2 separate regions of the Homo sapiens genome follow, and region 2 is linked to region 1. The links come from fine-mapping of genetic effects on gene expression. A gene starts in region 1. The other region holds a variant in brackets. All regions are shown on one strand. Distances are from middle to middle.

Region 1 (5,381 bases):
TTAGAAAGCAAACTCTTTATTATTAAACATTAACATATTTATCGACGTGTGAACATTCTGGGACAAAATCATCTGCCCACTTCTTGACGGGCCATTGTTAGAACGAATATTCCAAATGTTCTGCCCATATTGCATTTGGGGGAAGAAACTGCTCTGCTAAACCAAAGAAACACAAAATGTAAGAACTAGTGGGCAGAATCATCAGCAGAGAGCCCCCTCACTGTCACATCGCCCTTGTGAGGCACTCAGAAAAGCTACAGCAGTCACTTACATGACAACACCAACTTTCAATGTATTGGTTCACATATTTTAATTACATCTTGGTCCCTAAAGAAGCCTGCAGCCAGCAAACAGACCCAGGCACGAAAAGTAAATGAGTCTCAAACTGATTAGCCCAATAGGAATTGGACAACCCCTTAAGGGGCTCTAGATGGTGAAGGACACGCTGTTTGCCCTGCCATTCTGCAGCACAAAAATCCAGGCAGGTCGAAGAGGGCGGACACCCTCGCGTGGCCACCAGCCCGGAGCCGCAGCTCACACAGCGGCCTCCAAGGCGTTTCGCAGGCAGTCCCCACAGTGGTTCTTAAAGCGGCCGCTCTCGCCAATAATTGGGAGTCTAATTACGCAACGTTCTTCCCGCTCCCATTCCCGCTTCTTCTCTCTTTCCAACAGTCCGCTAACGAACCAGGTACTGTAGCTGGGTGTGTCGAAATCATTTTTCCCCTGCTCCCAAGTTTCTCGGTATATACGGTACAAAACTGCACAAAACCCGGCGCTAAGGAGCGCAGGAGGAGCTGACACTTCACACATTTGTCAAGATTACTGTCAGGCCCCACCTCGGCGATTGCCACATTCCCGATAGGCATCGCAGTTGTAAAATACACAAGTTCCCTCCCCGGCTCCGGACCCGAAAGCGTCTGCAGGCGCTGTCTATAACTTTGCTTTTCGATGGTTCAGTCATTATTAGCATTATGATTGGTTTTTACAAAACGCACTGGAATCTTAAGAGTCTTTTCCTTGCTCTGCTGCCTTCAAAAGACATGGAACCCCAGGACTGCTCCGAGGGCCCTGGGAATGTGCCGGCTGCAGTCTCAGGGCTCCCTCACTTGTCTTGGGTCTGAGGGCGCGACGGTGACGAGAAAGGGGGGACTACGGCCAGGAAAGGGGAGCAGGGCCCAATCCCCTCCCCTAGCGATCCCGCAGTGAAGGGCCCGGGCGCCGAGCCAGGACAGGCGCGATTCGCTCCCGTTTATCAAATCCTTATCGGTGCCCCGAGGTGGGAACCGCTGCTTTCGACCGGAGGATACACGGTTTCTGGCTCCAGTCCCGTAGTGGAAGTTGGAACAAGAGCAAATCAACCTCGGCAGTGAGCCCTCCCGGCCAGTCACCTCCCTCCCTTAGCGAGTCGGTCCTCCTCATCCTCGCACCTCTATACCGCCGCTCCGCCGCTGGTTTCCCGCGGCTCAGGCGGTTCAGCCGGCCGCGCGTTGGATTCCAGCTTCCCGCAGCATAGCCTCGCCAAGCCGCGGCCAAGCGCGGGGCTGGAAGCTCCAGGCCACTGGGGCCGCACGGGTGGAGACAGGAGGAGAAAGGGGACAGGCGGCGAGCCGCACACATTTGCAGAAGTTGAGGCCCTGCCTGCTTCTGCGCGGCCGCGCAGAGGGCTCGAACCCTCGCTCGGGTAGCGCCGGGCCCGGCTGGACTGGGAGCGGCCGGGAGAGGGCGAGAGGGCAGCAAGAAATGGCCAGAGTTGCCTCTCACCCAGTGCCGAGAGGCTCGCGAGGGCAGGCGGGCAGATCGTGGCTGCCCTTCTCTGTCCTCTTCGGAGACAGACACCCGGACCTGCCAGGGACATCCAGTGTTGCCGTCCGCTTCCTACACACCGAACCATCTGCCCCCGCAGGGCAATCCAGGTCACTCACTACCTACTCTCCCCAGAGTCAAGGTGCGGCACGAGGAAGTGGGTTCTCCAACCTTCGGTGGGGTCTGGAGCCCGGCAGCGGGGCGCTCTGAAGGGTCCTGGCTCCTCGGTAGGATCGTGTCCCTGAGCCGCTCTCCGCCTCCCGCCCCCCTTTGCCCACTTGGGCCGCGGCGCGGGCACAGGAGCGCATTTGGAAGGACTCCGCGAATCCAGAGAAAAATAGAGACGTGGATGCTGCCCCAAAATGAGAGACCAGAGAAAGTCGAGGACATGCACCCACAAACATTTCCAAGCGCCGGTGGCCACGGTAATCTGCTGCGGGGCGGCTGGGAGATTTTCAAAGGCACCGCGGAAGCACCTCCGACCTCCAGGCCATCTCCCTCGGCCTCCTGGCCTCGCCGTGCGCGCAAATCCCCGACTCCTCCGAGCCGCAGAAGTCTCCACTGCAAAGCTGCTGATCCGCGCCCCCAAACCGGGCACATGCTCTCCCCCTCACAGCCCTCCAAACCGAGCCTCGAGCTCCGAAGACCTCTCAGCACTCTTCTCCCAACCACTCTCGGTCGCGCCTGCCCCGCGCAGCCCGGCCCTGGCCTCGGACCGGCCCCCTGATCGGCCCGGACGCCCGCTTACCTTTTCTTCTCCTTGTCAGCTGTCATTGTCGCTGTGGCCCTTTGAGACGTTCAGACGCCGAGCACCTGGGCTCCCTGGCGGGTGGGGGGCTGTGGCCCTCGTCCGCTCCCCGCGGCCCGGGCGGGTGGTGAAGGTCCGAGGTGCGCGCAGGTCCCGAGCGCCCCGCGCAGTCAGGTGGAAGGTGGCGCGCGGCGGGCTAGGTGCGGGGGCGGGGGTGGAGAAAGGTGACTGGGAGGAACCTGCGCGCGGAGGCGGGGTCCGGGGAAGGAGTGGGTGGAGGCTGTCAGACCCGAAAAGAGGACGGAGAGAAGGGAACCCAAGTTCCTTTTTCCCTGGAAAAGGAGTCACTTTTCTGAGTTTTCAAAGAAAAAAAAAAGTGGCTCGAATGCTGGGAGTCGGAAGGAGTCGGAGGCCGGGCTGAGCTGACCATACAGTCTCAGGACACTGCCGAGGATTGTACGGCCGCCTCAGGAGCGCTGGGGCGGAAGCGCAGCGGGCACCGGACCCGTGTGGCGGTCCGCTCGCGAGTGTAAAGCTCCCGCGGCCGGCAGCCCACTTTAAAAACTCCGTCGGCCGGCTTGGGGCGGGCACGGGGCGGGCGCGGAGGGCGGGGGGCGGGCACCGGCGCGGGTGTGTGGGCGGGCACGCGCCGGCAGGCCCCGCCCGCGCCGAGCTCCGGGCGGCTCACTGCGTCCCGGCCAATGGGGACGCGCGGCCGCAGCCTCTGCCCTGACCCTGGCCCGCCTCCTGCCCCCGCGCTGCGCCCCGCCTCCTGCCTCCGCACTTCGAGGACTTGTTTATGAGGTCGTCTGGGCGGCGGGTAGCGGGGTGGGACTCCGCGTCGGGGAGAGGCAGCCTGCGCAGGGCCGAGGGGCGGCCGGGAGCCGGGCTCCGGGATTGCTGCGGGGGACGGCAGTTGCGCCACAGCGTCGGTGTCCTCGTACCGGCGCCGTGCCCTTGGAACGAGGGCAGGACCGCGGGCAGCGCCGGGCCAGCGCGGAGCCCCTCCACGCTGCTGCGCTCCTGCGTCCCTGGCCCTCGGGCCAGGTGGGGATAATTTCTCGGCCCCCAGCGGCTGCGTTTCGGGCGTGGGCGATGCGCCCTTTTCGGTGGGACGCAGCTGACTTGACCGTCTGGGAGAAGCAGTGCAAGGAAATTGATCTAGGGCTGCGCCTACTCTTCCTTCCCTCTCCCAGCAGGGTGGTTGCTTACCGGCTTGTGCCAGGCGGTTTGGTTTTGGCGGGGATGCGGCAGAGGAGGCCCTTTGAGCCGCCCGAGGCCGGGGCGAGTTCAGAATTGGAGAAGTCAGTCTGGTTCCCCAGTGTGATCTTGGAGTGACAAGAGTTGGCCATGTGCCCTCAAGTCACTGCATCTCAGGCCTGCCCTCTCTGCCGCCAGGGTCGATGGAAGTCCTGGGAAACCCAAAGGCTACAGGTGTTGGAAATTTGTAGATTTAAGGGCTCACACAGGCAACGGTTAGCGCTCAGGGATTTTCCAGCGGCGCTTTTGACGCTGCCTTCCATCTCCGGGCCCAGTGCTCCCCTGCCCCGCGCTGAGCTGTCTCCCACTCGCTACCGGCGATGGGGAAGGGACATCTGGGGAGAGGACAGGGGACGCCCTTAGTTTTTGAAGGCTGTGGAAGGACCCATGAGTTTCACAGGTGTAACTTGAAGTTGGAAAGCGAGGGCCAAAGAACTGGTCTATATCTCTCCCTTTAGCCTCTTGCCACATTTTATACTAGAACGATCTACAGAAGCGATTTGAAGAGAAGGGTAGGTTTCAGCGCCATAATAAAAATGAACACGTGTTTTCCCCGTGTACACAGAAAGGGTTGGGGGAGATACTTTTCAGGAGCCTGGAGAAGGCGAAGTGGGGAGAGGGCAAAAACTGACGAAGAATTGGGAAATACTTTTTTTTTTTTTTTGAGACTGAGTCCCACTCTGTCGCCCAGGCTGGAGTGCTGTGGCCCCATCTCGACTCACTGCAACCTCCGCTTCCCGCGATTCTTGTGGCTCAGCCTCCGGAGTAACTGGAATTAAAGGCGCCCACCACCACCCTCAGCTAATTTTTGTATTTTTAGTAGAGACGGGAGTTTTACCATGTTGGCCAGGCTGGTCTCAAACTCCTGACCTCAAGTGATCTGCCCAACTTGGCCTCTCAAAGTATTGGGATTACAGGCGTGAGTCACTGTGCCCGGCCGGGAAGTAGACGTATTTTGTCATTTTCTCAGATCTCGGGGCACGGAGCACCTATACAGGTTGATAGTCAACGAATTCAAAGATTGCAAATCTCTCTCTAGCGAACTATTTCATGGGGCTGGTGGGTTTCAGGAACGGGGTGATTTGGTACTGGGCTTCTCCAGCCAGCCATTTCTAGTGGACACATTTATGTATTTTAATGAGTTCAAATTGGTAGATAGTTCTCCCTTAACCATAGGCTTATTTCCCTCACTTGGGACTAGAGTGCGGGAAAAGGGCACCTTGGTGGCTTCCAGGTGCCTACAGTAGTTCACCACAACAGCCTCTGAGTCCTGGACTGTGCTTGACAGATCGAGGCAACACCTCCAACCCATAGAGAACATAGCCTTTTAGATCTTGTTTTTAAAGAGGAAAGGCAAGGAGGGGTCACTCAAGACCACATCAACCTAAGAAGACATGGACACATGGGAGGAACAGCACAGACTGGGGCGTGTCAGAGGGTGAGGGGTGGGAGGAGGGAGAGCATCAGGAACAATAGCTAACGGATGCTGGGCTTAATACCTAGGTGATGGGATGATCTGTGCAGTGGACCACCATGGTACACATTTACCTATGTAACAAACCTGCACATC
Region 2 (5,381 bases), 85 kb after region 1:
AGAGGGAAAAAGAAAAACCTTTTACTCTAGAATAGTATATCCAGCAAAAATATCCTTTAAACATAAAGGAGAAATAAAGACTTCCCCAAACAAAAGCTGAGGGATTTCATCAATGCCAGGCCTGTCCTACAAGAAATGCTAAAGGGAGTACTTCAATCAGAAAGAAAAGGGCATTAATAAACAATAAATAATCACCTGGAGGTATAAAACTCACTGGTGAGTACACAGAAAAACACAGAATATTATAACATTGTAACTATGGTGTGTAAACTACTCTTAAGTAGAAAGACTAAATGATTAACCAATCAAAAATATTTACAACAACTTTCCAAGACACAGTACAATAAATATAAATAGAAACAACAAAAAGTTAAAAAGCAGGGGGACAAAGTTAAGGAGAGTTTCTATTTGCTTGCTTGTTTGTTTATGCAAATAGTGTTAAGTTGTTATCAGGTTAAAATAATGAGTTATAAGATAGTATTTGCAAGTCTCATGGTAAACACAAACCAAAAATCATACAATGGATACACACACACACACACACACACACACACACACACACACACACACACAAAAGCAAGAAACTAAATTATATTACCAGATAAAATCACCTTCCCTAGAGGAAGACAGGGAGAAAAGAAAGAAGGATGAGAAGACCAAAAAATAATCAGAAAACAAATAACAAAATGGGAGGAGGAAGTCCTACTTATCAATAATAATATTGACTGTCAATGGACTAAACTCTCCAATTAAAAGATATGGACTGGCTGAATGGATGAAAAAATAAGACCCATTGATCTGTTGCCTACAAGAAACACACTTCACCTATGAAGACACATATAGACTGAAAATAAAGAGATGGAAAAAAATATTCCATGCTAATGGAAGCCAAAAAAAGCAAGAATTGCCATACTTATATCAGAAAAAAATAAATTTCAAGACAAAAACTATAAGAAGAAACAAATAAGGTCACTATAAAATAATAAACAGGTCAATTTAGCAAGAGAATATAACAATTTTAAATATAAATATATGCACCCAGCACTGGAGCACACAGACAGATAAAGGAAATATTATTAGAGAGAGATAAATATTATTTAGAGAGAGATAGGCCCCAATACAGTAATAGCTGGAGACTTTACCACCCCACTTTCAGCACTGAACAGATGTTCCAGACAGAAAATTAACAAAGAAACATCAGACTTAATCTGCACGATAGACCAGATGGATCTAATAGATAGTTATGGAACATTTCACCCAAGAGTTGCAGAATACACATTCTTTTACACAGCTCGTGGATCATTCTCAAGGATAGACCATATGCTAGGTCATAAAACATGTCTTAAAACATTCAAAAAACTAAAATTATATCAAGCATCTTCTCTGACCACAATGGAATAAAACTAGAAATTAACAACAAGAGGAATTTTGGAAATGATTTTAATACATAGAAAGTAAACAATATGCTCCTGAGTGGGTCAATAAAGGAATTAAGAAGGAAATTGAAAAATTTATTGAAGCAAATGATAATGAAAACACAGTGTACCAAAATCCATGGGATAAAACAAAAGCACTACTAAGAGGGAAGTTTATAGTTATTAGTATCTACATTAAAAAAGAGAAAAAAACTTCAAGTGAACAATTTAATGATGCCTCTTAAATAACTAGAAAAGCAAGAGCAAACCAAATGTAAATTAGAAGAAGAAAAGAAATACAAAGAATAGAGCAGAAATAAATGAAATTGAAATGAAAGAAATGATACAAAAGATCAATGAAACAAAAAGTTCATTGTTTGAAAAGTTAAGCAAAAGTGAAAAATCTTTACCCAGACTAAGAATAAAAGACACAAGATTCAAATAAAGAAAATCAGAAATGAAAAAGGAGACATTACAACTGAAACTGCAGAAATTCAAAGGATCATTAGTGGCTAATATGAGCAACTATATGCCAATAAATTAGAAATCTATAATCAACGGACAAATTCCTAGATACATACAACCTACCAAGATTGAACTGGAAAGAAGTCCAAAACCTGAACAGACCAATAACTAGTAACAAGATTGAAACCATAATAAAAAGTTTCCAACTAAAGAAAAGCCCAGGACCTGATGGCTTCACTGCTGAATTCTACCAAACATTTAAAGAGAATTAATACCAATCCTACTCAAACTATTCCAAAAATAGAGGAGGAGTACATAGTTTCAAACTCATTCTATGAGGCCAGTATTTACCTTGACACAAAAACCAGACAAAGACACATTAAAAAAAAAAAAAAAACAACACACACAGGTCTACATCTCTAATGAATATTGATGCAAAAATCTTCAACAAAATACTAGCAAATGAAATTCAACAATACATTAGAAAGATCTTTCAGTATGACCAAGTGGGATTTATCCCTGAGATTCAGGATAGTCCAACATATGCAAATCAATCAATGTGATACATTATATCAACAAAATGAAGATGAAAACCATATAATCATTTCAATTGATGCTGAAAAGCATTTGATAAAATTCAACATCGCTTCATGAAAAAAACCCTCAAAAAATGGAGATAGAAGGAATATACCTCAACATAATAAAAGCCATATTCAACAGACCCACACCTAGTATTACACTGAATGGGGAAAAACTGAAAGCTTTTCCTCTAAGATCAGGAATGAAACAAAGATTCCCACTGTTACCACTATTATTCAGCGTAATACTAGAAGTCATAGCTAGAGCAATCAGACAAAAAAAAAAAAAAAAAAAAAAAAAAAAAAAAAAAAAAGAAAGGACATCCAAATTGGAAAGGAAGAAGTCAAATTATCTTTGTTGGCAGATGACATAATCTTATATTTGGAAAAACCTAAAGACT[A/G]TGCAGGAAAACTACTAGAACTGATAAACAAATTCAGTAAAGGTGCAGGTACAAAATCAACATACAAAAACCATTTTGAAATGCCAGTAGTGAACGGTGTGAAAAATAAATTTAAAAAGTAATCTCATTTACAATAGCCTCACATAAAATTAAATACCTAGGAATTATCTTAACTGAAGAAGTAAAAGAAATCTACAATGGAAACTATAGAACACTGATGAAAGAAATTGAAGGGGACACCAAAAAGTGAAAAAGAATTCCATGTTCATAGATTGAAATAATTAATATTGTTTGAATATCCATACTATCCAAAGCAGTCTACAGAACCAATGCAATCCCTATCAAAATACCAATGACATCTTTCACAGAAATAGAACAATACAATACTAAAATTTATATGGAATCACAAAAGACCCAGAATAGCCAAAGGTATCCTGAGCAAAAAGAACCAAACTGAAGGAATCACATTACCTGACTTCAAATTATACTACAGAACCATGGTAACAAAAATAGCATGGTCTGGTATAAAAACAGACACTTAGACCAATGGAACAAAATAAAGAACCCAGCTACTCAGGAGGCTGAGGCAGAAGAATCGCTTGTATCTGAGAGGTGGAAGTTGCAGTGAGCTGAGATTGTGCCACTGAACTCCAGCCTGGGTGACAGAGTGACAGAATGAGACTCTAAAAAAAAAAAAAAAAAAGAAGAACTCATTGGATTAGATCGTCAAAGTAAGAGATCATCATTTACTATATGATAAAAAGCTGAATGTATTGTGCTATTATTATAAGACACATTATCTCTGAGTAGAGCTTACAGCTGTTCTTGTATAGAGTTTGAGGAAGGGTAGAGTTCAGGATTGGCAGAGTTTCAGAAGTAAATGTATTCAGGAAATGGCTGATCATTAGCTATAGCAGCATAGATTCTCAAATGAAGGTTGTTGCTGATTTGCTGGCATTCAGAAGCATAGTTACTAAAACAAGTTATAATCAGTCAATTAGCATGAATAATGAATATAAAACCACTTTTGGTGATTGGTTATTGCTAGAGAGTGTATTCTTACCTTAAGAAAATAGGAATATTTTTTATTCTTAAGTTGGACAATAGACTAGACACAGAGAAGACAGATTTAGAGAACTAAAGGAGAGATTAAAAAAAAAAATCTAGGCCAGGTGAGGTGGCTCATGCCTGTAATCCCAGCACTTTGGGAGGCTGAGGCAGGCGGATCACCTGCGGTCAGGAGTTTGAGACCAGCCTGACCAACATGGAGGAACCCTGTCTCTACTAAAAATATAAAATTAGCTGGGTGTGGTGGCACATGCCTGTAATCCCAGCTACTTGGGAGGCTAAGGCAGAAGAGTTACTTGAACCTAGGAGGCGGAGGTTGCAGTGAGCCGAGACCGCACCACTGCACTCCAGCCTGGGCAACAAGAGCAAAACTCTGTCTCAATTAAAAAAAACAAAAAAAAAACACACAAGAAAAAAATATCTAAACTGAAACACAGAAAGAAAAGAAATGGGAAAAAATCAGAAAGGAGCATAAAAGAGATATGAGACACAGTAACAAATATCCAACATACATATCATTGGAGTCCTAGAAGAAGAAGGGAAAGTTAGAATGGGAAAAGAAGCAATATTTAAAGAAATAATGGTCAAGAATTTTCCAAACATTCTATTGGGCCTTTTTTCCTACTACCATTAAAAAATATTTCTGAAATTCTTGTTGTTGTTGTTGTTGTTCTTCAAATATTCCTTACTCTCTTTAAATAAAACATACTTTTTTTTTGTTTTAAAATTGAAAAATGTCTTCTCTCTTAAGGATATTAAGAATAGTATTTGTTGCGTTTGTGAGGTTTTCTTTTCCCTCCCAAATACTTCTTGTTTCTGTTTGTTTTCTGAGCTACATCAACCCTTTAAATAAGTATTTTAGTACTAGTAAACTGAATCCAACAGTATACGGAAAAGTTAATTCACCATGGTCAAGTAGGCTTCATTCCTGGGATGCAAGGTTTGTTCAACATATGCAAAGTAATAAATGTGATTCATCACATAAGCAGAATTAAAAACAAAAACCATATGATCATCTCAATAGACACATAAAAAGTTTTTAATAAAATCCAACATCCTTTTATAATAAAAATCCCCAAGAAACTAGGTATTAAAGGAACATACCTCAAAATGATAAGAGCCATCTATGACAAACTCACAGCCAACATCATACCAAATGAGCAAAATCTGAAAGCATTTCCCTTGAACACTGAAACAAAACAAGGAAGTCCATTCTTACCACTCCTATTCAACATAGTATGGGACGTTCTTACCAGAGCAATAAAACAAGAGAAACAAATGAAAGGTATCCAAATAGGAAAATAAGTCAAGCTATCTCTCTTCACTGATATCATTCTATACCTGGAAAACCCTTGCCAAAAGGCTCCTGGAACTGATAAATGACTTCAATAAAGTTTCCAGACACAAAATCAATGTACAAAAATCAGTAGCATTTCTATACACCAATAACGTTC

Evidence for each region. PIP is the estimated chance that this variant, and not a neighbour inherited with it, causes the effect.
Region 2: its variant is the best candidate, but not a certain one, in a credible set for the expression of EPAS1 in neutrophils (BLUEPRINT, PIP 0.54).

What each region holds. Positions count from the first base shown.
Region 1 is chr2:46,295,108-46,300,488 of GRCh38, reverse strand. EPAS1 (endothelial PAS domain protein 1) reads right to left here and starts at 3,082. Exons shown (of 16, transcript NM_001430.5): 1 at 2,552-3,082. The coding sequence starts at 2,577. RefSeq lists silencers at 2,489-2,818, 3,049-3,628.
Region 2 is chr2:46,210,001-46,215,381 of GRCh38, reverse strand. No RefSeq gene overlaps it. Among named protein-coding and RNA genes, the nearest start is that of EPAS1, 85 kb to the left of the region's middle. The variant A/G (reference allele first, on the strand shown) is at 2,860.